2 separate regions of the Homo sapiens genome follow, and region 2 is linked to region 1. Evidence: fine-mapped expression QTL. A gene starts in region 1. The other region holds a variant in brackets. All regions are shown on one strand. Distances are between the middles of the regions.

Region 1 (12,571 bases):
AGCAGCTGTATTCATGATAGCCAACACTGAAAACAACTTGAATGGCCAAAGGGGAGTGGATACGCAAGTCATAGCATATCCAGCCACGGAAATACTGCTGAGCAACAGAAAATAAACTAATAAAGAGGATGGGAAAGACAGTAGCAAGGGAGCAGGGAAGAGGAACAGAAGAGAGGGAGAGGAGAAGAGGGAAGAAGAGAGAGAGGAATAAAACTAAAGGAGAGCCAGGCATGGCAGTTCATGCCAGTAATCCCAGCACTTTGGGAGGCCGAGGCAGGAGGATCACTTGAGCCCAGCAGTTCAAGACTAGCCTGGGCAACATGGCAAAACCCCATCTCTAGTAAAAATACAAAAAATGAGCCAAGTGTGGTGGTGCTTGCCTGTAGTTCCAGCTACTTGGGAGGCCGACGTGAGAGGATCACTTGAGCCCAGGAAGTTGAGGCTGCAGTGAGCCGAGATCATGCCACCGCACTCCAGCCTGGGCAATGGGAGTGAGAACCTGACTCAAAAAAAAAAAAGTAAAAGAGAGAAGAAATACCTAGACATGTCATAGCCAGACTGCAGAACACCAAAGCATCTTAAAAGTAGCCAGAGAGAAAAGGCAGACTAGTTACAAATAATTAGACAGCAACAGCAATGGGACCAGAACACAGCTGATTAATACAGGAACAATACAGAATTGCACACCCAGATAAACTTACCATTCAAGAACAAAGGTATCTAAGACATGCAGAAACTGAAGTTACCACCAACAGATGCTAACAGAATTTCTAGAAGATGTGTCTCAGGAAGAAGGAAAATGTATCCCAGAAGCAAGCTTCAAAGTACAAAAAGGAATGGTGAGCACATTAAATTTACAGACAAGTACCATATAAAACAATTAGAATGTCAAATTTGGCGCAGGTTAAGAAATGAGAAGGCTATATAAAAGAACAGATCCCAAAATGCTAAGGTAGGAGTCAGTAACAGGTGGCAGGATTTCAAGTTTGTTTTATTTTCTTCTTCATGCTTTTATTGTCTTGTGTTTTCTTGAAACGGAGTTTCACTTTTGTTGCCCAGGCTGGAGTACAATGGCGTAATCTCAGCTCACCACAACCTCCGCCTCCCGGGTTCCAGCGATTCTCCTGCCTCAGCCTCCCGAGTAGCTGGGATTACAGTCACGCGCCACCACGCCTGGCTAATTTTGTATTTTTAGTAGAGACGGGGTTTCTCCATGTTGGTCAGGCTGGTCTTGAACTCCTGACCTCAGATGATTCGCCCGCCTTGGCCTCCCTAAGTGCTGGGGTTACAGGCGTGAGCCACCGCACCTTATTGTCTTTTTTTTTGAAAAGGAACCTCTGTCTTTTTACAATCTGACTTAGCTTTAAGGATTCAATTGCTAAATTAGAATGAAATGAAAACAAAATCAAATATCAAACTGCCAGAACTGCAATCTATCAATTCTAATAACAAGTTTCCTTTAAAAACCCTAAAGACTAATTTGAAGGGATGGTAAAAACTGGATTTATTATTCATTCAACAAGGATTTACCAGACTGGGCAACATAGCGGTGAGACTCTCTAAGAAAAATTTTTTTAAAGAAAAAATTAGCTGGGCGTGATGGCATGTGTCTGTAGTCACAGCTACTCGGGAGACTGAGATGAAAGGATTGCTTGAGCCCAAGAGGTCAAGGCTGCAATGAGCCATGATCACCACTGCACTCCAGCCTCGAGTTTTTTTCAAAAAGAAAACAGAACACAATAATTTACCAAGGGTTTGCTATATTCAGATACTATACTAGATCCTGAATGAACAAGAACAAAAACTGAAAGTCATCATAATACTGGATTTTTAAGTCTTCTAATTGATAATAAATTTATGCAAAGCATTTCGTCAAAAGTCTGCACATAAAGTGAAGTTACTCTTGTGGTCAGAGGTTATTATCATAATTGAGAGTTAAAGGCAGTCTAGTGTGGCCTGAGGCTCTTCTTTTTTTTAATGTGTGAACAAATATGACAGTTTTACATATGAAATTCATTCAGTGTAAATGATGAATTCCCACATTAATTGCAAGTCTTGAAGTTCATAATTTCCATCCCACATTAAACTAAGAAAACTTAAAATCTGAGTTAACAGTTTGCAGGCAGCACTGAGCATGCCTCAGTTTCAGTCTCGCCGGATTAGTATCAAAAGCTTCGAGCATGATATTTTAGTAATGTATCCATTATCCACTTTTGCTCAAAGTATCCACTTGGCCAAACATTTTTAACTAATTCAAACCAGGGCAAGGGCATCCTATAAAAAGTTTTGCCAGTTTTAAATACACGTTTTCTGGGGGCTTCTTGATTGAAAACAAAGGCTGCATTTGGCAGAACAGGACTGGAGAAATCAGTATTTCAAGTAATTTGAATGAAAACCGTTTGGCTCTGATCTTCCTGGCCATGTGGAAGTGGTTAAGGAGGTAACAGCCTACCTAAGTTGCCATGGGTGAAACAGAGAGAAAGGACTGTGACCCAGTACCACCACAGAATAAACTCTGACACTAAAAGACAAGAAAAGAAGTTGATCCGCTGCTTCCCATTCAATAGCCAGGCTTGGAGAGGCTCCTTTCAATCAAAAGCACCAAACAACAGGAGAGAGACTGCCACGAGAGCCTAAAACCCCACAGCCTCCCTTCCCAGGCAAACGGTAACCAATACAGGGAATGCCTGTCCTTCCAAAGTAGAAAGACTTTAGCACCTGCATTACAGGACTATACCTGCCCCTCTTATCTGTAGCACCTTCAGCTGGTGAGGAAAGTGCATTTCTCAAAAACACTAAGCAGTTATCTGCAATAAGCAAGGCCAGTTACAAAGGGCTTCTTTAAAATGTCCAGTCCACCATGCTATCAAAACATCAGGCAAGGCCAGGCTCTGTGACTCACGCCTGTAATCCCAGCACTTTGAGAGGCCGAAGCGGGCAAATCACCTGAGGTCAGGAGTTCAAGACCAGCCTGACCAACATGGAGAAACCCCGTCTCTACTAAAAACAGAAAATTAGTTGGGCATGGCGGCAAATGCCTGTAATCCCAGCTACTGGGGAGGCTGAGGCAGGAGAATCGCTTGAACCTGGGAGGCAGAGGTTTCAGTGAGCCGAGATTGCGCCATTGCACTCCAGCCTGGGAAACAAGAGCAAAACTCCATCTCAAAAAAAAAAATCAGGCAAGTACAGTACTTACAAATCCACAGAATTTCTCTTATCCTCTGGGAAAATCACAATGCCATTTTTCCTAAGCATATTCTGCCTGCAGAAACCAGCCTTTTATCCTTTCTCTAGTATTCTCTAATCCCGTCCAGGATGAAAAGAGTTGTTTTTTTCTGATGTTTATCACAAGCATCCTCCTCATAAATATATACAATTTTCCAAATGAATTAAGCTCTTAGGTGTTCAATAAATTAAATGAGTATAAGCTTCACTGTTTAAAAAAAACTAACCCTTTCAATGCTATCTTATTTGTATCTTTAACCAAAAAACAAAACAAAACAATTTCCTTGGGCAGTTCCTTTTTTCTCTTTTTTTTTTTTTTTTTTGAGACAGAGTCTCACTCTGTTGCCCAGGCTGGAGTGCAGTGGCCCAATCTCAACTCACTACAACCTCCGCCTCCTGGGTTCAGGCGATTCTCCTGGCTTAGCCTCTGAGCAGCTGGGATTACAGGCACCTGCTACCACCCCTGGCTAATTTTTGTATTTTTAGTAGAGACAGGGTTTCACCATATTAGCCAGGCTGGGAAATCCTGATCTCAAGTGATCCGCCTCGGTCTCCCAAAGTGCTGGGATTACAGGTGTGAGCCACCATGCCCAGCCCCCTTGGACAGTTTCTTTAACGAAAAGTGAAACAAAAACGTTCCTCCAGGTTCCTTGTAAACTCTGGATAATTCTGAGGTGAATGCAATAACCCAGTAAGAAACTTGTCCAGGATAATTATTTTAAGATCTTCTTTGATAAGTCTGGCTACAGAGTAAAGTTAACATTCTATTATGAAGCAAGGAATAAATCCATCCCTGTATCAATTAAAGGAAGAGAATATCAATGTGAAAGGGGGCATTAGAAACCACGCTTCAAAAGGATTCCCACAGTGACAGAACTTCTCAATGAAACACCACACCCCAAGTAACGGGGGCGGGGTGGTGCACCATAGAATCTGCCCCTAGGAGGCACAGCCACCTCCACACCGAGGGTTTCCAGTTTCCCATTCACATAAAAGAAACAAGTAAGAGATTCTGGGAGGCGCTGGGCTAGGAAGGCATCTACTCACTGTCTCCACCAACAATTCCCTCAGTAAAGCAGCCATTGCCCAATAATGCTTCTATTTATTTTACCCAGAAGCAGATCTATTAGCCAGACATTCTAAAAACACAAACGCTTCGTTGTGCTTGGAGTAACTCCAATATTGATGCCTTGCTGCAGAACGATGCTGCAGGAATATAAAGTGAGCCATGTGCTAGCTGTACCCACTTATGAAGCACACTGTCAGAAACTGTCACATCCTGGAGACCAACCCATCCGAAAGACTGAGAATAAACCCCCTACGAGAACACTGTGGAAGGAGGGAGAAAGCCAAAGATAGGATGAAGCAGGGCCCTCCTAAAGTCTCCGGAACAACGAAGCCAATTTTTAAGGCAACTCTCCCTAAAGCTTTCAGGACCAGAAAGATGTTTCTTTCTCCTCTCCTTGTTCAGACTGAATAAGAAAAGCAAGACAATGCTGGAGGATGTTCTGAAATGGGCTCCGCAAGTCACCACGTGCAAAGCACATTAAACAGAAGCCAGTGCTAGGCCAGGGTTTGGCTCTGAAGATGTTGCCTACTGGAAGGAGAGGGGCCCCCGGGGGTTTCCACGCAGAGACCAGGGCTGGGCGGTCAAACCTGGTAAACTGACAAGGAGAAGAGCCTTAACAACAATATAATGAAACGGCCAGAGGCCACCGGTACTCCCCAGGGCTGGGAGAGACAGGGAGGCCGAGGCTGCTAAACTGTTCCAGATGACAAGCAGGCTCTCCCACGTCTCCACGAACTGATCAGATACCAGGGCCTCGCTTCTTTGTGAGCCTCAGCTCCCTCCTTTCTGGGGAACCCTACTCGATCCCCAACAGCCGCTGGCCTCCAGCTGCCACAAACGAGATCCAGACTCATTACAGGGAATTCGTATTTCCCCCCCTCAAATAAAACACACACACACACACACACACACAGAGTCTCCGGGGTCCAGCCGGATCACACAGCTAAAGTTTCCGGAACTTGAATCGTAAAACCACAATCAGAAGTTGTTTGGAAATACTCGCCGCAAAGCAATCTGTCCTTTGCTTTAAAAAATAAAAAATAAAAAAAACTTTGCCCTGCATAAAGGCAGACAGTAAAGAGAGACACAAATCTAACTTGGGCAGAGGGTGTGTTCCTCTTTGTCACCCGCCGGGAACCCTCGCGCCGCGCGTGGGCGAGCGGCGGGCACCCGGCGGCATCCGCGCCAGCGGCCACCTCCCCGGCCCGCAACCGGCCTCAGGGGCCGAGATTGCGGCCCGAGGTCCGGAAGCGGCGTCCAGCGCTGTCAGCGGGCGGGTAGGACGGAAGGAAACGGGGGAAGGGCGCCGGGGTCGGGGGAGGCGAGCGGGGACCGGCGCGGAGCCCCGCAGCCCGACGTCGGCGGAGGTGAGGGGAGAGGGGCGCAGGGGGCAGCCCGGAGCCCCGAGGCCCCCGAGCTCCTGCGATGGTGGCCGGGGCTGCCCGGGCCCGACCCGCCGCCCGACTGCGCAGGGCAGGACCTCGGGGACCACGCGCCCACCTTCGCCCGCAGCCGCGGCCGTGCGCTGCGGGAGCCTGGACTCGCACAAGTTGCCGCCCGCGGCCCGGACCCCGCCGGCCCCCGCCCTCCCGCCGCGGTCATTGTTCACCGCGCGCCTCCTACCTCCACAGCGCCGGCGGCTGCGGCGGCTCCCTCTCCCGGCTCGGGCTCCGGGATCGGCGGCTCCCAAGCCCCCGGCGGCCGAGGGCGCGGCGGCGCCGGCTATTAATACCCGCGGGCGGCGGCGGCGCGGGCGCGCGAGCAGGGCTGGCGGTGGCCGGCTGAGGTCCGAGCCATCAAAGGTGGCGCGGGGCGGAGGGGAGGGCGGAGCAGGCGGGGTGGGTGGGGAGCGGGCTCCGGGTCGCCATGGCCGCCTCGACGCCGGGGCCAGCGCTACTCGCGCAGGGAGGAGCGGCGCAAAGCGGGCAGCGGCCGCGTCCCCGCCCCGCGCCCCAGCCGAGCGCCCGCACCGCTGCGCCCGCGCCGGACCCGCCGCCTCTGAGGCCGGCGAGCGGGAAGTGCAGTGGCCACCGCCCCTCCCCGGGTCTGGGCCGGCCCCTCGGCGGGGGGAGGCGGGCGCCGCGCAGCCCGAGCAGCGGGGACGCGGGAGAGCCACAGCCCCCTCCAGCGTCCGGGCCCGCGCCCTGCGCCCGCCCCGCCCCGCTCCGCTCCGCCCGGGCAGGTGCGCCCAGGGGCCTCCCGAGCCCAGCGCGCCGCCGGGGATCTGCGCCTCTCTTGGGCTTCCGGCCAGGGCCGGGCTCCGCGCGGCGCTACCTAATGCAGCGCGGGGAGCGCCACTGGCGAGACGCGAATCCAGCAGCTGTGGCGAAAAACGAACCGGGGAGAGCGGGAGACGTGTGCACGGCGAAGCCGGGAGCGGCAGGCGGGCGGTCAGGGGCTCGGACTCTGCAGGTCGCTTTTTGAGGTCCTGCCTGGGGCTGCTTCGCCTGCGACGTCGCGCGGGGAGGACAGTCTTCAGGGACCCACCGAGCCCTCCCCTCCCCCGGAGCCACAGGCACGGGCTTCCGGCACCACCCCGGGCTGCGCGGGACTTAAGCTTGGGGGAGCGGCGGCCACCCCGCGCCCGCCCACGTCCTGGCCCAGCGCCCTCCGCCCGAGCGAATCCCATGACAGTTCCCGCCCGCCCAGCCTCGGGGGACAGTGCCCTTGGGGAATGGCGTGGGGGAGGTTAGGAGTGGCTTGCGGTGCTTGAGAGCCTTCGGGGTTTCGGGAACTCTACGGAGCGGGGAGCAAGATTCAGGACCCAGGAGGCAGCGATCTAGGGGCACAGTCACCGTCCCCACCCAGCAGCTGCCGCGTTACCTTCTCTTCCCCCTTCTGAGCCTCCAGTCCCTCTCTCTAAGCGTGGCGGGAAGAGGCCTAGGGCGCAGCAAGTGACGTTCTGCCAGACCCGGGGCTAGCGGATTCCGGCCTTCGGAGGCCACTGGCTCAGAACCGTGGGCCTTTTGCGTCTTACAGGAGTTCCCTGACCTCAGACCGAGAGGGCAGATTTCACGGGAGAGGCCTCAAGTGAACTCACAGCTGGACAGGAGCTGGGCAGAAGTGGAGTGTAGGGACCCTGATAGAAGGGCGGGTTGAGACAAGAACAGGGGTCTTGGAAGTAGGGGGTGCTTGTGGGCAGCTCCTGGGGAGGAGCAGAGATGTAATACTTGCAGATTTGGTGGTCTGTGGTTGAAGAGAAGAAATGGTGGGTTTGAGGCTTTGCTCTGTCAGCCCAACCAGCTGTGTGTCACAGATCAGATTTTTTTCTGCTCGTGATTCTCTAAGTGTGGTTCTCAGACCACGACCACCACCAGCAGCCCCTGGAAACGTCAAGAAATGAACATTCTTGGGCCGCATCCCCGACCTACCTAATGAAACCTTAGCAAGCATCTGAATCGCCTGCAGGGATAAAGGACTGTCAGGCTCCATCCCCAGAGCTGCCGATTCAGTAGGTTTGGGGTGGGGCCTGAGAGTTTGCATTTCTAACAAATTCCCAGATAGTGATGTTGCTCTGGTCCTGGGATCACACTTGGAGGATCACAGTGTTAGGACAGTGGGTCTCAAACTCATGGAATCATCTGCGATTAAAAAACAACACCCTGGTTGCACCCCAGCCAAATATATAAAGATTCTAACCCAGGCATCAGTAAAGTTCCGCAGGTGATTCCAGTGTGTAGCCAGGTTTGAGAACAGTTGCTGTAGGCGGCTTTTTAAACTCTAGTGTATACCTGAATCACCAGGGAATCTTGTTGGAATGCAGATTCTGATTCAGTAAGTCTGAGACTGTTTCTAACAAGCTCTCAGGTGTTACTTGCTGGTCCAAGGACTACACGTAGTAGCAAAGTGCTATGTCATACCTCCCAACTAAAAGGAAAAAATTAGGCCGGGCGCGGTGGCTCACTCCTGTAATCCCAATACTTTGGGAGGCTGAGGCAGGTGGATCACCTGAGGTCAGGAACTTGTAAACCAGCCTGGCCAGCATGGGGAAACCTCGTCTCTACTGAAAATACAAAAATTAGCTGGGCGTGGTGGTGCGCGCCTGCAATCCCAGCTACTCGGGAGGCTGAGGCATGAGAATTGCTTGAACCCGGGAGGCAGAGGTTGCAGTGAGCCGAGATCGTGCCATTGCACTCCAGCCTGGGCAACAAAGTGAGACTCCATCTCAAAAAAAAAATCATAAAAATAATAAAAGCAAAAAATCATAGAAAGCGCAGAAAATTAGAAAAGTGACATTTTCCCAGTCACTCTCTTTGCAAGACCGACATTTTCTACATGTTACAGCATTTCTTTCATAGTCTTTGTATGTCTAGAATTAGATTTAGTTGTGATCTTAAAACTATTTATGATCATAACACATAATATATTGATCATATTAATCAATATGATAATACATAATATCCCATGTTGCCTTATCTCAACATTATCAACATTTGTGAAGGTGACTTTTAAAGGAGCCGTTCTGAGGTTTGCAGGCTGAGGGCAGGAGCCCATGGGGAGAGAGTTAATGGGGGAAAAGAGAGGGGAGAAGGGGCAGTTCTGGGAATCTAGTTAGAGAGGCTGTAAAGCGGTGGGGTCACACTAGAGAACTTCCTACGTTTCCTCCCAGCTCTCACCAACATTCCGCGGTTGGTACCTAACCTGATAGAAAGTACTGTTTCTTTTAAGAGAGGGTCTTGGCTGGGCGCTGTGGCTCAAGCCTGTAATCCCAGCACTTTGGGAGGCCAAGGCAGGCAGATCACGAGGTCAGGAGATCAAGACCATCCTGGCTAACACGGTGAAACCCCGTCTCTACTAAAAATACAAAAAATTAGCCAGGCATGGTGGCCGGCGCCTGTAGTCCTATCTACTTGGGAGGCTGAGGCAGGAGAATGGCGTGAACCCGGGAGGCAGAGCGTGCAGTGAGCCGAGACCACACCACTGCATTCCAACCCGGGCGACAGAGCGAGACTCCGTCTCAAGAAAGAAAAAAAAAGGAGTCTCGCTCTGTTGCCCAGGCTGGAGTGCAGTGGCACAAACATAGCTCACTGCAGCCTCGAACTCCTAGGCTCAAGTGATCCCCCTGCCTTGGCCTTCCAAAGTTCTGGGATTACAGGCATAAGGCCATCGTGCCTGGCCAGAAAGCACTTTTTAAATTCCTCTCCCTGAAAAGCCAGGGGTACCTGGCCTCGAAAATCCTGAACCTGGAAAATCAACTTCTGAAAAACTTAGGCGTTTCCTTGTCATTGTGTGTCATTTATGCTTAACTTTCAGAATATAAAAATGTATAATCCCCCTAGATCCCCCTTTTATCCCAAGCTGTGGCATGGGTTATTTAGAAATCTTTCTGGATTAAGGAATCACCCTGTGCTTAACAATTCCTCTTATTAATTTTAACTGTTTTACTGTAAAACGTGTGTACATGTCAAGATAAAATTAAGCAGTATAGAAGAGTATGAAGTGAAACCTAGAAGGAACCCTTCCTGCATCCCTAATCTCGCTTCTTAGAAATAATTTTCCCAACAGTTTTTACAGTCTTTCAGGAATTTTCTGCTCATATACAAAAGTGTGTGGGGGCAAGCAAATCTTTCATATTAAGAGATCACACGTCACAGTGAAACACAACTTTTTATTCCATAGTTCCCTCCCCTTCAACACATCACCTTTCGGAGAACCTGGGTTTAGGGTGATGATGCTCTCTGGACGTGACAGTATGCACTGACAGTAACTGAGGCAGCCTGTATTAAAACCCAAGGCGGAAAGAGATCTGCTTGTAGCATTTGTGGTGGGCTCATTCTGTGTAATCCCCCTGCCTTGAGTGTGACCTAGTGACTCGCTGCTAATGGATAGAATACAGAAAAGGAAGGCAGTGTCACTTCTGTGATTAGGTCACAGAGCACTGTAACTTTTTTTTTTTTTAGACGGAGTCTCACTCTGTCGTCCAGGCTGGAGTGCAGTGGTGCAATCTCGGCTCACTGCAACCTCTGCCTCCTGGATTTAAGCAATTCTCTGCCTCAGCCTCCTGAGTAGCTGGGATTACAGGCGCGTGCCACCACACCCGGCTAATTTTTGTATTTTTAGTAGAGACGGGGTTTCACCATCTTGGCCAGGCTGGTCTTGAACTCCTGACCTCGTGATCCACCCGCCTCAGCCTCCCAAAGTGCTGGGATTACAGGCGTGAGCCACCGCGCCAGGCCCATAACTTCTTACTGATACGGTCTTGCCCTCTCATTTGCTCACTTTGATGAAGCCAGCTGCCATGTTGTAAGATGTCCTATGGAGGACCCACAGTGGCAAGGAACAGAGGGAAGCCTTACTCCAACAGCCCTGGAGGCACTGAATTCTGCCAACAACCATGTGATACACAAGTCCTTTCCAGCTGAGACTTGAAGTGATGTCAGTGTCATGAGGAACCCAAAGCCAGAGGACCCAACTAAGCAATTTCTAGAGTCTTAACCCATAGGAAGTATGAGATGATAAGTGTTCTTCTAAGCCACATTTTGGAATAACCTGTTTTGCAGCAATAGATAACACAGCATAATGTGGTAGGAGGAAGAATATTAGGATGAGCAGTTTCAAAGTCGTGTCAACAGGAAGAATATGAATCTCCTTGTGTAGCTGGTGGGAAATCTTGGGATTTTGAGCTCAGTTTCAGCAGCCCTTAATGGAACCAGCAGAAACTGAGCTACAGAGAAAGCAACTGACATGAAGTAGACATCTGAGGTTGGAGAACTTATGAGGTATTAGTTGGGATCTGGAGGTAAGACCTTATTCTTCTGCAAAGAATCAAGACCTTGGAGGGGAAGGGGCAGCACTGGTGGTGACAGAAGCCAGATGGAGAACAGCTTAAGGAGAGAGTGGGGGAGGTAGAGGATAGGATTCCGGGGACTATCTGTGTGGGATGCCTTTGGTTCAAAAGATAGTTGCATATTAAAATTTGGTAGATATTGCAAAATTGTACTTCAAAGACACTGCAAAAATTTATTCTTCCACTGTAGAGATTTTAAAACATGGCCACAAATTATCGTACACTCCTCCCACTGAGAGTTCAGATCTATGTCTATGCCCTTTGAATCTAGACAGGCTCATAACTGTTACGGTCAATAGAATACAGTGGACGTGATGTGACTTTCATAGCTAGGTCAGAATAAGCCATGCTGCTTTTAACTTGTTCTTTGCATACACTTGTTCTTGGAGATCTGAGTGGCCATGTAAGAAGTCCCAACAATCCTGAGACTGTCATACTCAAGAGGCTCATTTGGAGATGTTCCAGTTGACAGTCCCAGATGAGCTGGTCTTTCAATCATCCCATCCCTCGTGTCAGAACGTGAGTGAAGAAGCCACCTCAGAATGAGTTCTCCAGCTCCCACTGTCCCTGTTCCCAGCCATCCCAACCACCCCAGACTTTTGGGTCATACCACCTAAGGACACCATGGACAGAGAAGAACCCTGTGTTCTTTCCAAATTCCCAATCCCATAAACTGGTAATTTCATGCCATTAAGCTTTGCATGACTTACTATGGAACAATAAATGAACCCACTAACCATGCTTGAGAATGATCATTCTTTAGCCCACTTTGGATATTGGCAAACTTAATATTTGTCAGTCTTTTTTTTTTTTTTTTTTTTTTTTGAGATGGAGTCTCACTCTGTCACCCAGGCTGGAGTGCAGTGGTGCGATGTAGGCTCACTGCAATATCTGCCTCCTCGGTTCAAGCGATTCTCCTGCCTCAGCCTCCCAAATAGATGGGATTACACGCATGCACCACCACACCCAGCCAATTTTTTTATTTTTAGTAGAAACAGGGTTTCATCATGTTGGCCAGGATGGTCTCAATCTCCTGACCTCGTGATCTGCCCACCTCGGCCTCCCAAAGTGCTGGGATTACAGGCGTGAGCTACCGCTCCCAGGCATATTTGTCAGTCTTACAGGCAAAAACAAAATCTCATTATTTTAAAAATTATTCATTGGCATTTATCCATTAACTGCCCTTCATGTGCTTTGCTCATTTTGCCATTGAGTTATCTTTTTTTGTTAACTCTTAATATGTTTTATATGTTAAGGAAATTAGCCCTTTGCTATCATGTAATGAATATTTTTTACGTTTTTTAATATGGTACTCTTTTTCACAACAAGTTCTTAATTTTTATGTTGTCAGATTTGTCAGTGTTTACTTTTATGCTTTCACATTTTTGTGTCATGCTTGGAAATGTCTTCTCTATGCAAGATGTTTTAAAAAATCATCATGTTTCTATACTTTAATGGTTTTATTTTTATATTTTATCATTGATCTATAT
Region 2 (12,571 bases), 190 kb before region 1:
AAGCTGTAGAAAGTCAGAGAATAGAGCAAATGGCTATTCTCCCTGATGGAGGTGTTCTTTGAGAGTGGAGTACCTAATGTGTTTTTAGAAGTAGCCCACTTGAATGGGTCCTGAAGGATGAGTAGGAGTTTGCTAGGTAAACACAGATGGAAACGTGATGACTTAGTATGCTCAGGTGGACATAACCAAACACTACGCACTGGGTGGCTTAAACAATAGAAATTGATGTTTTCACAGTTCTGGAGGGTGTGAAGTCTACACTCAAGGTACGAGCTGATCTGGTTCTCTGAGGGCTCCCTGCCTGGCTTGCAGATGGCCACCTTCTCCTTGTGTCCTCACATGGCTGAGTGACAGCAAGCGAGAGCCCTCTGGTGTCTCTTCTCCTAAGGTCACTAGTTCTATCAGATCAGAGCTCCATCTTCATGACCTCATTTTACCTTAATTAGTGTACTTCCTTACTCCAAATACAGCCACATGGTGGGTAGGGCATCAATAAATTAATTAGGGTGGGGAGTACAATTTAGTCCACAGCACATGAGTCATGAAAGGGCTAGAGATGCTATTTTATGCTATTATTATCTCCCTTTTAAGACTAATGTGAGAATTCAATGAAACCATGACCATAAAGTACCTAGCAAAAGGCCTGGCACATGATACACATTCTTTATTATTGCTGCCACCGTGATGGTGAAGGGAAATTTACAGAATGAATTACAGGGGATGAGTTGACACTGCCCTTCTGCCTGTGTGTATCAAAAGTATATTAGAAGCCAGAACAGGGTGTTACTACCTTTTTCACTTTCCAGACATCAGCAGTAACATCTGTGTAAAGCTGGACACTTGAGCCCTGGACACTTGAGACCAGATGCAATGCTCTAGGGCTTTACCCTGTGGGCAGAAGGGATTGATATACCTGCACACCTGCACCTCAGCTGTGCTGTATCTACTGGGACTTTCCAGGCTGGAGGACAACGGAGTGCCCAAAGTCACACTCACTGGAGGCAAGCTACTTCTTGTGCCTCAGTTTCCTCTTACATAAAATGGACGTAAAGATTGAACCACTTCACTGGGTCACCGTAAGGATTAAGCGACTTAGTATACACCATGCCCTTAGAACGGCATCCAGACTAGGCGAGCTCTAATGGGTATTTGGGATGATGATGATGATGTGGAGGAGGAGAAGGTGGAGGAGGAGAAGTTGGAAGAAGAAAAATTAAATGACTCAAAAGCTGAACAGCAGACTGGATGGCACCCTCGTCAGGAAACTGCGACCACCGACAGGAACTAAAACTTTAAATCCAAACCCTGGGGAGCTGGAACAAGGCTTTCATTCTGGGGCAAAGTAGCTAAATGTTTAGGCCTGCCCATCGGTTCTGACCACAAATGCTGCGATTCTTCCTGCTTGCTGTGGCTCTAGGGGCGGCCACACTGCCCCTGAGGACACACTGTCTCCTTGTTCCCCTCAGCAATAAGTCCCAGCGTTCAGAACCCTCGTTAAACACACTTCAGATTAGGTTTCAGAGTCCCCGACTCCAGGCTGTGAAGAGAATGGGCCCTTTCAGCTCCCTCACTATAATGGAGCAACGACACAACCACGGCGTCATTAGTACACAACTCCCTCCTTCTTTCATTCCAAAACTCTGCAAAGATAGATTTTGTGTGTGTGTGTGTGTGTGTGTGTGTGTGTGTGTGTGTGTGTACATGTGGGGGATTTCTACTGCTTTCTTGCAAACCTGGTATGAAGCAAGCAACAGAAACAAAAACATTTAGGGGAGAATCCAGCTCTTCATAGTGCTAGGTTTGTCATCTCCTGATCTTGAGTAATTCATTATCTTTTCACCCTTTTAGAAGTAGATGAATAAAAAATTCTAAAATTTATCTAAATTAAAAAATCATCTTGACAGCTTGATACTTTAATATCTATTAGGCAGAGAATAAAATATCACACAAAAACTGAACAAGGCAAGTATAAACCAGATGACGACTGCTTGTAGAAAGTAGGACACCACTTCCAGCAAGAGCAAAAGATGTGTCTTTTTCCTCATGTCTAGTAAGATTGGCACTTTTCTCCTTGGGCTCAGTGGTCTAATGAAGTCATGAAAGTGCATTCAGCCCACTGAACCTGAATCTTTAGAAAACACACCTGGTATCATATACTAATACTTGGCTTCCAAAACTATTATTCCAAAGGAAGGCGGAAAGTAGAAATTGTGTTGAACTTAGTCCCGTGACTCAGCAGAAAGGTGAAGACTTTGTAAAACAAAGCCACCAATGACACCTGTGGTTCCCATTGTCATCTTCCATCATATGCAGGCGAAGTTCTTCAACCTTGTCTCTGAAGCACAGCTTTTCCCCAAGAACCGATCTTAACGTGAATGAAAAATTATTCTGTTTACAGACACTTTCTACAGAAACTACTTTTTTAACATTTTTTTCAAATAGTCAGTTGGGAGAATGGGAAGATTTTCTTACCCCTTAGAAGGAGACTTTAATGTTTTTATGCAAAAGGCTTTTAAACTGAAAATCCATGCATCAAACTGAAGTATGAAAACACAGCTTTCCGGATCCTTTAAGAATTCTTAGCTCTTTAGTTTCCAGAAAACTTCCCAAACATTTTTACTTTTCATTCTTTTTTTAAAATGTACTTTTCAGGTTTAATATTCTGTTAACCACGGGAGTGAGTGGGGGTGGGGGTGAGCTTCAGCTCCAGCTTTGTGTTCTGCAAAGAGGTCAGAGTTCTAACCAGATACTTGGTATTTATTCTCCTTTGAAAAGCTGGAAAGCTCAGATTAATATGGAAAAGAACTTTACAAACAGGTATATAACAAAAGTACAATCATATCCAACAGACACAGAAAGGAGAATGGTGGTTGTAGGGCTGGGGGTGGAGGAAGGGGAGAGGGGAGTGGGGAGTTAGTGTTTAATGGGGACAGAGTTTCAGTTTGGGAAGATGAAAAAGTTCTGGAGACATGGGGATGGCTGAGCAACAACATAAACATACTTAATACCACTGAACTGTACACTTAGAATGGTTAAAATGGTAAAGTTATGTTACGTATATTTTACCACAATTAAAAAATGGGGAAAAAAGCATATCCGAAAATACTGACAATCTACAAAATGGACTGGTAAACTGGGTGGGTGTGGGGAGGGTAGAAAAAGTCAAGCACTATAAAAAGTATTTTCATTATAAAGATGGAAGGAAAACTAACTTTGATGTCATTTTCAACAGATGAAGCTATTACTATTAGGCGCAAAACTGTGGGAGATATTTGGGAACAGCATAGAATAGGGGAAGGCAGGGGTTCTAGGCTCATCACGTCAACACTTTGAAGCTGGCTTGCCACTTACTAGCTGTGGGGCTCAGGCAGGTCTCCTGGCCTGCCTGGACACTGGCTTTCCCATCTGAACAATGGAATGATGACGTCCGATAAAGGAGTGGTTGTGAGAGTTAAATGAAGGAAATATACATAAAGTGCTAAGCACCAGTGCCATCATCCAGCAGGGATTCAAGAAGTCAGTTACCCACCTTGCTTCATTTTTAGTTGAAATATGTTGTGTTATTTTCAACGTTTGGTAGCTATGAAAATTCCACCTTCAGTATTTTTAAACCTCACCGTACTTTAATCACTATAAAATAAAACTTAAACTTCCCCTCATATTTCACTATCTTCTGATGAGCAGCTGGGGAATGAGACACTGACTAGAAGAGGAAAAAGGTGGGAAATGGGGTCTCTATGATCCACAAATGAGGAAACGACTAAGAAACAAAAAATGATATGGGTTCACTACGGATGGCAGTCTCTTCCCACTGAAAGCTTGCTAGAGTAGGACAAAATACGAACACATAGATTCTCGATTTAGGAAAAAGAAACTTACAAATAAGCATATAACAAAAGTATACATAAAGCATATCCAACAATGCTGACAGTCTAGAAGGACTAAAAGATTATGAATTACTAAGCACATTTTTTAAAAATATGAGTATCAGACAACCAGTTTCCTTAGGTGTTAATAAACCACAGTTCTGGGAAATAAGATGCTTCTGCTTTGTTTACAACACAGATTCTGTAAGCTCCGTCAAATGCAATAGAAAGGGATGCTGATCGATGGCCAGGATTTAATTAAAGAACTAATTCCAACTGATGATAGCAGTGATTCCAAGGGCACTCTGGAAATGAGGCTTGCCTGAAAACTTCTAAGCACTCATGTCCTCTGGCCCCAAACCTAGAGAGCCTCACATGCCTAAATGTTCCTGCAATGACTCTACTGCACATACACACTCATACATCTGTGGACACTCATGACACTCAGGAACTGGGATACCACGCAGCTTAATGACATTCTTTACCTTCTGTGAGTACCTTAATTTTTTTTTTTTGAGATGGAGTCTCACTCTGTTGCCCAAGCTGGAGTGCAGTGGCGTGATCTTGGCGCACTGCAACCTCCGCCTCCCAGGTTCAAGTGATTCTCCTGCCTCAGCCTCTCGAGTAGCTGGGATTACAGGCGCCTGCCACCACGCCCAGCTAATTTTTGTATTCTTAGTAGAGACGGGGTTTCACCATGTTGGTCAGGCTGGTCTCGAACTCCTGACTTCAGGTGATCCACCTGCCTCGGCCTCCCAAAGTGCTGGGAGTGAGCCACCATGCCCGGTAGATGAAATATTTTTTCTGACAATTTCCTTGAATTTCTCTGCCTGCATTTAACCTCTGTCACTTATGATTACTATCTGACTTATCACATAAACAATTTCCAAATAGCTTCTCAAGTCAGCTTTATCAGAAACAATCATCTTCTACTTTAAATCAGACATGTCACTCCCCTACTCAAAATGTTTTTCACTCAGAGTAAAGGCCACAGTCCTCACAATGGAAAAAAGGGTCCCCAGTGATCTGCCCCACCCCTGTCACCTACCTGAGCTCATATCCAAATGTCCTCCCTCTGGCTCACTCCTCTCCAGCCAGGCCAGCTGTTCTCTAGCACACGAGGCACACACCCACCTCCAGGCCTTTGCACAGGCTGGAACACTCTGTCCCCAGAAATCTTTGTGGCTAATTCCCTCACCTCTTTCTTCGCTTTGCTCACGTCAGGCTTTCAAAAGTGCCGACCCTGACTACCCTATTCAAAATTACAATTTGCCCCACACCTCCATCCCTGATTCTGCTCTATTTCTTTTTATTTTTCACTTTTACATACCACTTTCTACACACAAAAGACAACATCTTCTTCTAACGCTCCTTACACACTGCCGTCTTTCTCTGCTGGAAGGCACACTCCCTCAGGATATGGATCTTGTTTTGTTCACGAGAACAGCATGATGCATAGTAGATGCTCATAAAGATTTGCTGAATGAATAAAATAATTTTAAAACCATAATTCCCATGGAGAGACCATAATAATACAGTCTTTAACAAAAACAACTATAAGCTGGGGTCAAGAGTCTAAAGCCAACTAGGGAAAATATATATATATTTGAGACAGAGTCTTGCTCTGTTGCCCAGGATGGAGTGCAGTGGTACCATCTCGGCTCACTGCAACCTCTGCCTCCCAGGTCCAAGTGATTCTCCTGTCTCAACCTCCCAAGTAGCTGGGATTACAGGTGCACGCCAGCACGGTCGGCTAATTTTTGTATTTTTAGTAGAGATGGGGTTTCGCCATGTTGATCAGGCTGGTCTTGAACTCCTGACCTCAAGTGATCCATCCGCCTTGGCCTCCCAAAGTGCTGGGATTACAGGCGTGAGCCACCACACCTGGCCAAGAATATATTTTTTTATTTCAAGAAATTGTTGCTCAAAGAGATGCTGTCTGCAAAAAGCCATAAATGCTGACCATTAACAAAAGGCCAACTATATGAAAAAAGCTTAAAAGAAACAGAGAAAATAGAAGATGACATTCTTTCGATAGGGAAACATGTTAACTTCTACAACAATGCACAACAAAACTAGTCATGTGACGGTCACACAGGAAAAGAAA[T/C]ACCTAGGCGAAGTTTAAACTTGCAGAATGAACGTGTCACATCACAAGCTGTGATAGGCAGCGCAGCGTTTCTACAATACCCCGCAGGCGGCTTTTAAGAAAAAATTAAATATATGACTCCATCGATGTGTTGAGTTTTTCCAGATTCAGTGCTCTTGGAGTACAGGAGGCCCCTCCCTTATCGTCAGTCTTGCTTTCTCTGGTTTCAGTTACCCTTCGTCAATTTTAAATAGAAAATTTTAAATGGAAAATTTCAGAAATAATCCCTAAGTTTTGAATTTCCCGCTGTTCTGAGTAGTGAGGAAATCTCTCGCCGTCCTCTCTGTCCCACCCTGGACATAACTTCTCCCTTTACCCAGCAGATCCAGGCTGTCCGTGCTCAAGGGCCACCTCGGTGAGCAGATCAGCTTTCGAGATAAGCAGTGCTTGTGTTCAAGTCTCCCTGAATTTACTTCCTAATGGTCCCAAACAGTAGTGATGCTGGCAACTGGGGTATGTCAAAGCGAAGCCTTAGAGTGCTTCTTTTAAGTGAAAAGGCCAAAGGTTCTTGACTTAATGAGGAAAGAAAAAGAGTCATGTGCTGAGGTTGCTAAGATCTGCAGTAAGAATAATCTTCCGTCTGGGAAACTGTGAAGAAGGAAAAAGAAATTAATAATACTTTCGCCATCGCACCTCAAGCTGCAGAAGTTACAGCCACAGTGTGTGATAAGTGCTTAGTTAAGATGGAAAGGGCTTTATACTTGTTGAAGGCATGAACAAGAAGAAAGAAAAATAAAATCCTAAGGCTCTCAACCCACAGAACAGACCCTCCTCTTGGCCAAGGGGACCCCAGAGTAACCTTAAAGCTGGGTCTGTGGCTGTGAGGGGATGGGAGGTCTGATGAGCCTGGTTACACCCCCATCCTTGCTTGCTAAAGGCCACAGGCTTTCTTCCCTAAGGGCTGAACAAAAGCCAGTTCTTTCCAAAGATTCCACCTAGGACTTAACCAACAGACTGACACCACCCCTCCCTTTTGTGATGTCAATGAAACAACAAACCAGCATTCCACCAGCCTGTGGGGGCTGTGCAGTGAGGGCCTGCGTGTCCTCAGCTTCAGCTTAACACATTAGAGTCCAGAAAACTCTGCCCTTGGATCATGCTAACACTGCCATGTTTTGAACATGGGACCGTGAATCTCAATCGCGTGCGCATGGTTCTCGTTTCATGAATATTCATGACTCCCCCATAGCTTATTGAATATGCCTATTACCCACCCCATTCAGCATAAATTGTTGTCTTATTCTTCCCCTCTGAAGTGTCTGTTTCTGGCTTCTGACCAGAAGCTATGCTTCCTAGCCTGTCAGAATGCCCGCTTTGCAGGCTGCGACCCTTTATGAGAAACAAAAAGCTCCTTTCCAAATTTACAAACTGTCTCATCCTTCAGCTGACAACAGAAACGTGTCCAGAGTGACAGCAATCAGGTCTGGTACTATCCATGGCTTCAGGCATCCACTGGGGTCTTGGAATGTATCCCCCATGGACAAGAGGGAAAGACTTTATCAGAAACTTCAGTTCCCTTTAAACTGGCTCACCAGTTAACTTTGTTGCTCTCAATGTGATTGTTTTAAAATCTGGCCAAGAGAAGGAAGCCTGAGATTTAGCACATTCCATTGTTAACTCACACTGGTTTTGAGTTTTTTGCTCAGTTTAAGTCCCTTGTTATGAAGCCTTATCTTAAAGTAAACCATCCTAACAAGCACCGTTTTAATGATAATTCCCTTTTATGTAGGTATCATCACTGCAAAAGTTAGCTGTTTGAAAATTGAAGGCAAATGTAAGATATATACTAAGAAACATGGGTTTCGATGACACATTTTAAAAAAAATCCTGTGAAATTATAAACTAAATTTAGTGACATGGGCAGCCTACAGTGACCTAATACCAGCACTGACATAAAAGCCGTATTGGAAAACAGAGAGAGGTTTCTGAAAAAGCAATGCAAGCAATAAGAGCCATCTTTAAAAACAAATATTTTTTAATACTTCTATGATTTGACAGCATTCGAAATGTGAATCTACAGTGGTGACCTACAGCAAAGAATTTACACAAATGAAAATGGAGTGTGTCTCCTTCCATAGAGAGTTAAGGTTATTCAGAGCGACAGTATTCTACCAATTGCGTGTACTCATTAAATGCATTTGGCCCACATTTATAAACAATAACATGAGTGCTCAAAACAAATCAAATTAAAATACCAAAGGACAATAAGCACATTTTTAAAACAGATCTGTCATCTGTCAAAAATTATACATGCCCTAAAAGAAGATGAGTTCAGAGGTTTGCCTAGGAATTGGACAGTTGAGACTCAATTCTAGCTGACACAGGCAGCAAAATGATCTAGTTTTAAAAGCTTAGATCTGCCTTCACCATCTAACTCCTCAACTACGTGAGATGACTTTAACATATTCTAAAGAATTATGCCAACAGAAAAGTTTATTGGAGCTGCATATCCTAGTGGGCACGTACCAGGTACTCTATTTTATAAAAACCACTGTGAAAATTACATATTGTTCTCTCCTCCTGAAAGGCATGATTAGTCCCAATTGTAGTGAATCAGGAGAGGAGATGCAGGAACCAGCACGTGTGGAAAAGAAATCAGGCAACAGATTCGCAGAAACAGAAAACAAAATGGTGCTTACCAGGGGCCAAGGGAGGGGGAAATGGGAAGTTGTTGAGTGGGAATAGGGTTTCAGATTGCAGGATGAAAAAGTTCTGGACCTCTGTTTCACAGCAATGTGAAAATACGAAAAGCTACTGAACTGTATGCTTAAAAACGATGAAGGTGGTAAATTTTATGTAGGTGGGTTTTTTTAACTAAAACAAGAAAAGAAAGCATTAAGGCTAAATCTCCAAGTCTGAGCCTGTGAAAAAGAATGTTTCCAGAACGATATTATAGGCCAGGCTGGTTTATTAATTGCTTGGAAGACAAACACAAAAGCAGAAACAAAACACTATAGACAGGCAACACACCTGCAACTGATTGTCCTTTTGCATATGTTTATTCATTACCAAGCAGACGAAGCCATTTGTGTCTTTATGTTTGATTTTCATTCATTTTTCAAAGCAGTCAGCTATTGAGGGATTGCCCAATAGAAAAATTTCAGAAGCATTTATTATATCATTAACAGCTCCATTTTCACTCAATGTCCCTCTAAGCCTGTCAGGGAGACCTATGAAGAGAAGCTATAAAACAAGCTTTGTTTTCTCTGCTAAAATGCCCTGTGGCTGTTGCGGAGTCTTGGGAACACAGTGCGGCTTTCAGGCCCTGGTTGTTTCAGGTTTTGTTTTGTTTTAAACAAGAGATATAACTCTCACCAGCATGCTGCATTTTACCAAATCCTCAGCCACAAAGACTTTCTTATGACAACTCCATGCAGATCAAACTGGACAAGCTACAAATATTATGACAAATATTCTTGAGGAAACCTGAGTATGTGTTGGAGAAGTATGTGCCTCTCTGATTTCTCAATGCCTTCTGTCACGGCTGTGTAATCTAGAATTTAGGAACCTGATTCTGGGTTCCAGTACAAGGTAGATTAGCAAGACAGGGAAGATCAGCATTTCTCCTGGATTTCAGTTTGTAACTCTCAACCCAGACATTACCATTGGTTCACCAGTGAAGAACTGGAACAGTGCTGGTGAGATGGTTTACTCCTTAAATCATCAGCCTAACCTAAATTTAATCAGCAAGCTGGGGCGTCAGGTGGGAGCCTTCACTTTCAGCAGTGTCGTACAGATGATAGAGTACCAGAAACAGAACATATGAGATAGAGAGCCGTGACAAAGACAAAAAAAGAAAAGGAAAACACAACAGTTTTATTAACCAAGTTAGTAATCACTTGAGTGTAAAGATGAATCCAATAATGTAAAAAATAGAAGCACTGTTTTCAATACTCATGGAAAGATAGGCTGTTGAAACATAGAAACAAAATAATTTCTTCTATTCCAACATCAAATGCATAAACCATATTTTTCAGGGTTTATTTCCACAAGTCTTCCTTACGGACTACTTACCAGTCAGTCTGGGAAGTCTTCATTATTATCCCATAGTTCATGACAGAGTGTTCTGAAGTGCTTCTACAGTATCTATTTCACATTCTCTATCCAATTTGGCCAAGAAATTTCAACTACTGTGTTAAGGCCTCAAAAAACAGAGCATTAAGGCATGGCCAACAAACAGAATCCCTCAATGCCCACCATAAATAATAGTTCGGAAGGCAGCCATGGGCCATGAAGGCCAATAGGTCAGAAGCCATAGGTCAGAAGGTCTTCGCTGTGTGGCTCAAGTCAGAAATGCAGCAGCCAAAGACCCCTGGAATGGGGGCTTCAGCTCATCAGGGCCTGATGCTTCCAAGAGTCTTTACTAGCACAAACGGGAAAGGGAAAAGGAGAGGAATTTGAAAAGAGAATGGTTGTGAAGGCAGAGGCTGCCAAGGACGCTCAGAAACACACACCAGGGGTAGGTGGTCAACACATTTTGATCACAGAAAATAGACCAGTGAGTACATCGCCTTTTTTTTCTGAAAATAGTAAACCATTTTTTTTCTTCTGAAGACATTAGAAAAAGAGCTAAGGGCATCCTTTCAAAAAGTAAACTCTTTCCAGAAAATATCAAATCATGATTCCAACACGCTCTTTAGACTGAACTGATGGATCATCAATTTCAGCTTCATAACAACTTGCAGACAGTTACGAATTAAATGTGAAAACACTGAATGCCAAGGTTACCCAATACAAAATAGATCTTACACAAAAAGCAGTGGGCGCAGCAGGAACCGTGTTTCGCTTTTCCATACTGCCAAAATACACAAGCTGGAGTAGACACGCCAAGATTTCCTCATGAAAATGAGGCTTCCTTCATGAAACACTGGGTGATAAAGGATGAGAGTAACTTGACCTTTGTTTTTCTTTCCAAGCCACAAATGAAAACACAAAGAAAATCAAGAGCCACCTGAAATTTAGAAAACATTTCACAGCCACCATTATACATAACTTCAATGTACGCATGAAATAAAGGACTATCTTAACTCTTTAATGAAACTTTACGAGGAAATTTTCCTAGTGCATTTAATATATTAATCAAGTAATAAAATCCTTCATGTGCAACTCCTCAGACATAGTTCAAGTTGTGATGAAACTCAAAATGTGTATTAGTTATAAATATAAAAATGACTAAATTCAATTCTGGTTCTTGAGTACTTAATTGCTCGGAAGTTAGCTTCCTCATATAGGCTTTAAAAAAATTGTTGACACTCAACAGGAAGACAAAATTATGGGGCTTGAATTCTGGAAAGGAAGAGACATTTTCCTCTAAAGGCTGAATAAAGTTAACTGCAAATAGTATGCAAGAATTGGAGATTTTTTTCTTATCAAGTAGCAAAATAAACTAGATATCTACTTTTTGTTTTTACAATCTGTCTTTCTGCTCTCCTTTAAAAGTAAAAAGTTAATGACCAGAGATGTGCCAATTAGAGAAACCTTAAAAGGTGGCCTTCAAGAATTTTCCTTTAAAATAGAAAAACTTGGAAGGAACAGAATACAAATAGATCAAAACAGGTATGTAATATTTTCATGTGTTAGGAGCAGGCTAAAAATATTTAACAGACATAAATTCAGTGTATTTATTATTGATCTTATAATAATAATGGAAGCCTCAAATGGAAAAAAAAAATACTTCTACTGTAAACAACCACATCTCCGAAGCCAGCAGGAAACTCATTAGAAAAAAAAAAAAAAGCCATGTGAATTTCTCATTACAGAGACCACTTGAACCATATTTTAAATAAAATCGAGTTGCCTTTCTGATTCCACTACCTGGGCACACCTGCTTAAATATATTAATGAAACTGTGGCAACAAATCTAAAATTTTATTATAAAATATGTGCATGACAACTGCTCCTAACTCACAACCAAAAAACCAACTCCCTTTTAAAAGTGTTAAAATAATATATTGATCATTTTAAGGATTGTAAGCAACAAATCCTTTCACCACGGATCATTAAACATGAGATAAATATCCCCATTTCTATAATGCATGTAATTTTAAGTAATGTTTAATGTTAGTAGCCACTATTACATCCTGCAATTGTGTAGTGCCAGCAACCATATATCTAATATTACTGTTTTTTCAAACATGAGCTTATTCACAACCATAAACTCTTCCTATTACGAATGCAAATATTTTCCTCCCTCTCCCATGACAAATAGCTATTCTGCCAAAAGGTCTGGAGAAACAAATTTCTAGGCAAATCATCTGTGTGTGGCTGACATGCATGTATGCGTGGTATATACGGTATGTGTGTGCCCGTGTTTTCAGTTGGTTGGGTTTCGGCTGCCTTTGTGCAAGATGGTTATTATAACCGTGAAATTTAAAATCTGAAATGCACAGTACCAGAAAGTCCTCGGCTGAGCTGTGATTCTTGGATAATTCCCGGGGAACAGCCTCTACTCAGTGCCTTCTTCCTATCACACAAGAGTTTTCCTTCTGTTTCCAATAAGGAGCATGTAAGCTCCGGGTCTTGGTCGCATGGCAGTCAGAACTGTACTCGGCTAAGGAGC

Direction of the effects. Positions count from the first base shown, and alleles are read on the strand shown. Sizes are in standard deviations (SD) of each study's normalised expression.
For the expression in testis of the gene that starts at base 6,316 in region 1, T is the high allele of the variant in region 2 and C is the other (small effect, 0.30 SD a copy in GTEx).

Evidence for each region.
Region 2: its variant is fine-mapped to the expression of FARP1 in testis (GTEx, PIP above 0.99).

Annotation. Positions count from the first base shown.
Region 1 is chr13:98,136,839-98,149,409 of GRCh38, reverse strand. FARP1 (FERM, ARH/RhoGEF and pleckstrin domain protein 1) reads right to left here and starts at 6,316. Exons shown (of 27, transcript NM_005766.4): 1 at 5,918-6,316. It overlaps LOC105370328 (a long non-coding RNA gene), which reads left to right and starts at 5,500. Exons shown (of 3, transcript XR_931670.4): 1 at 5,500-5,571. RefSeq lists silencers at 6,266-6,575, 6,816-6,865.
Region 2 is chr13:98,322,565-98,335,135 of GRCh38, reverse strand. The region is part of intron 2 of FARP1 (FERM, ARH/RhoGEF and pleckstrin domain protein 1); the gene reads right to left. It overlaps LOC105370327 (a long non-coding RNA gene), which reads right to left and starts at 6,930. Exons shown (of 3, transcript XR_931667.3): 1 at 6,812-6,930; 2 at 6,329-6,600; 3 at 1,898-2,365. The variant T/C (reference allele first, on the strand shown) is at 5,974.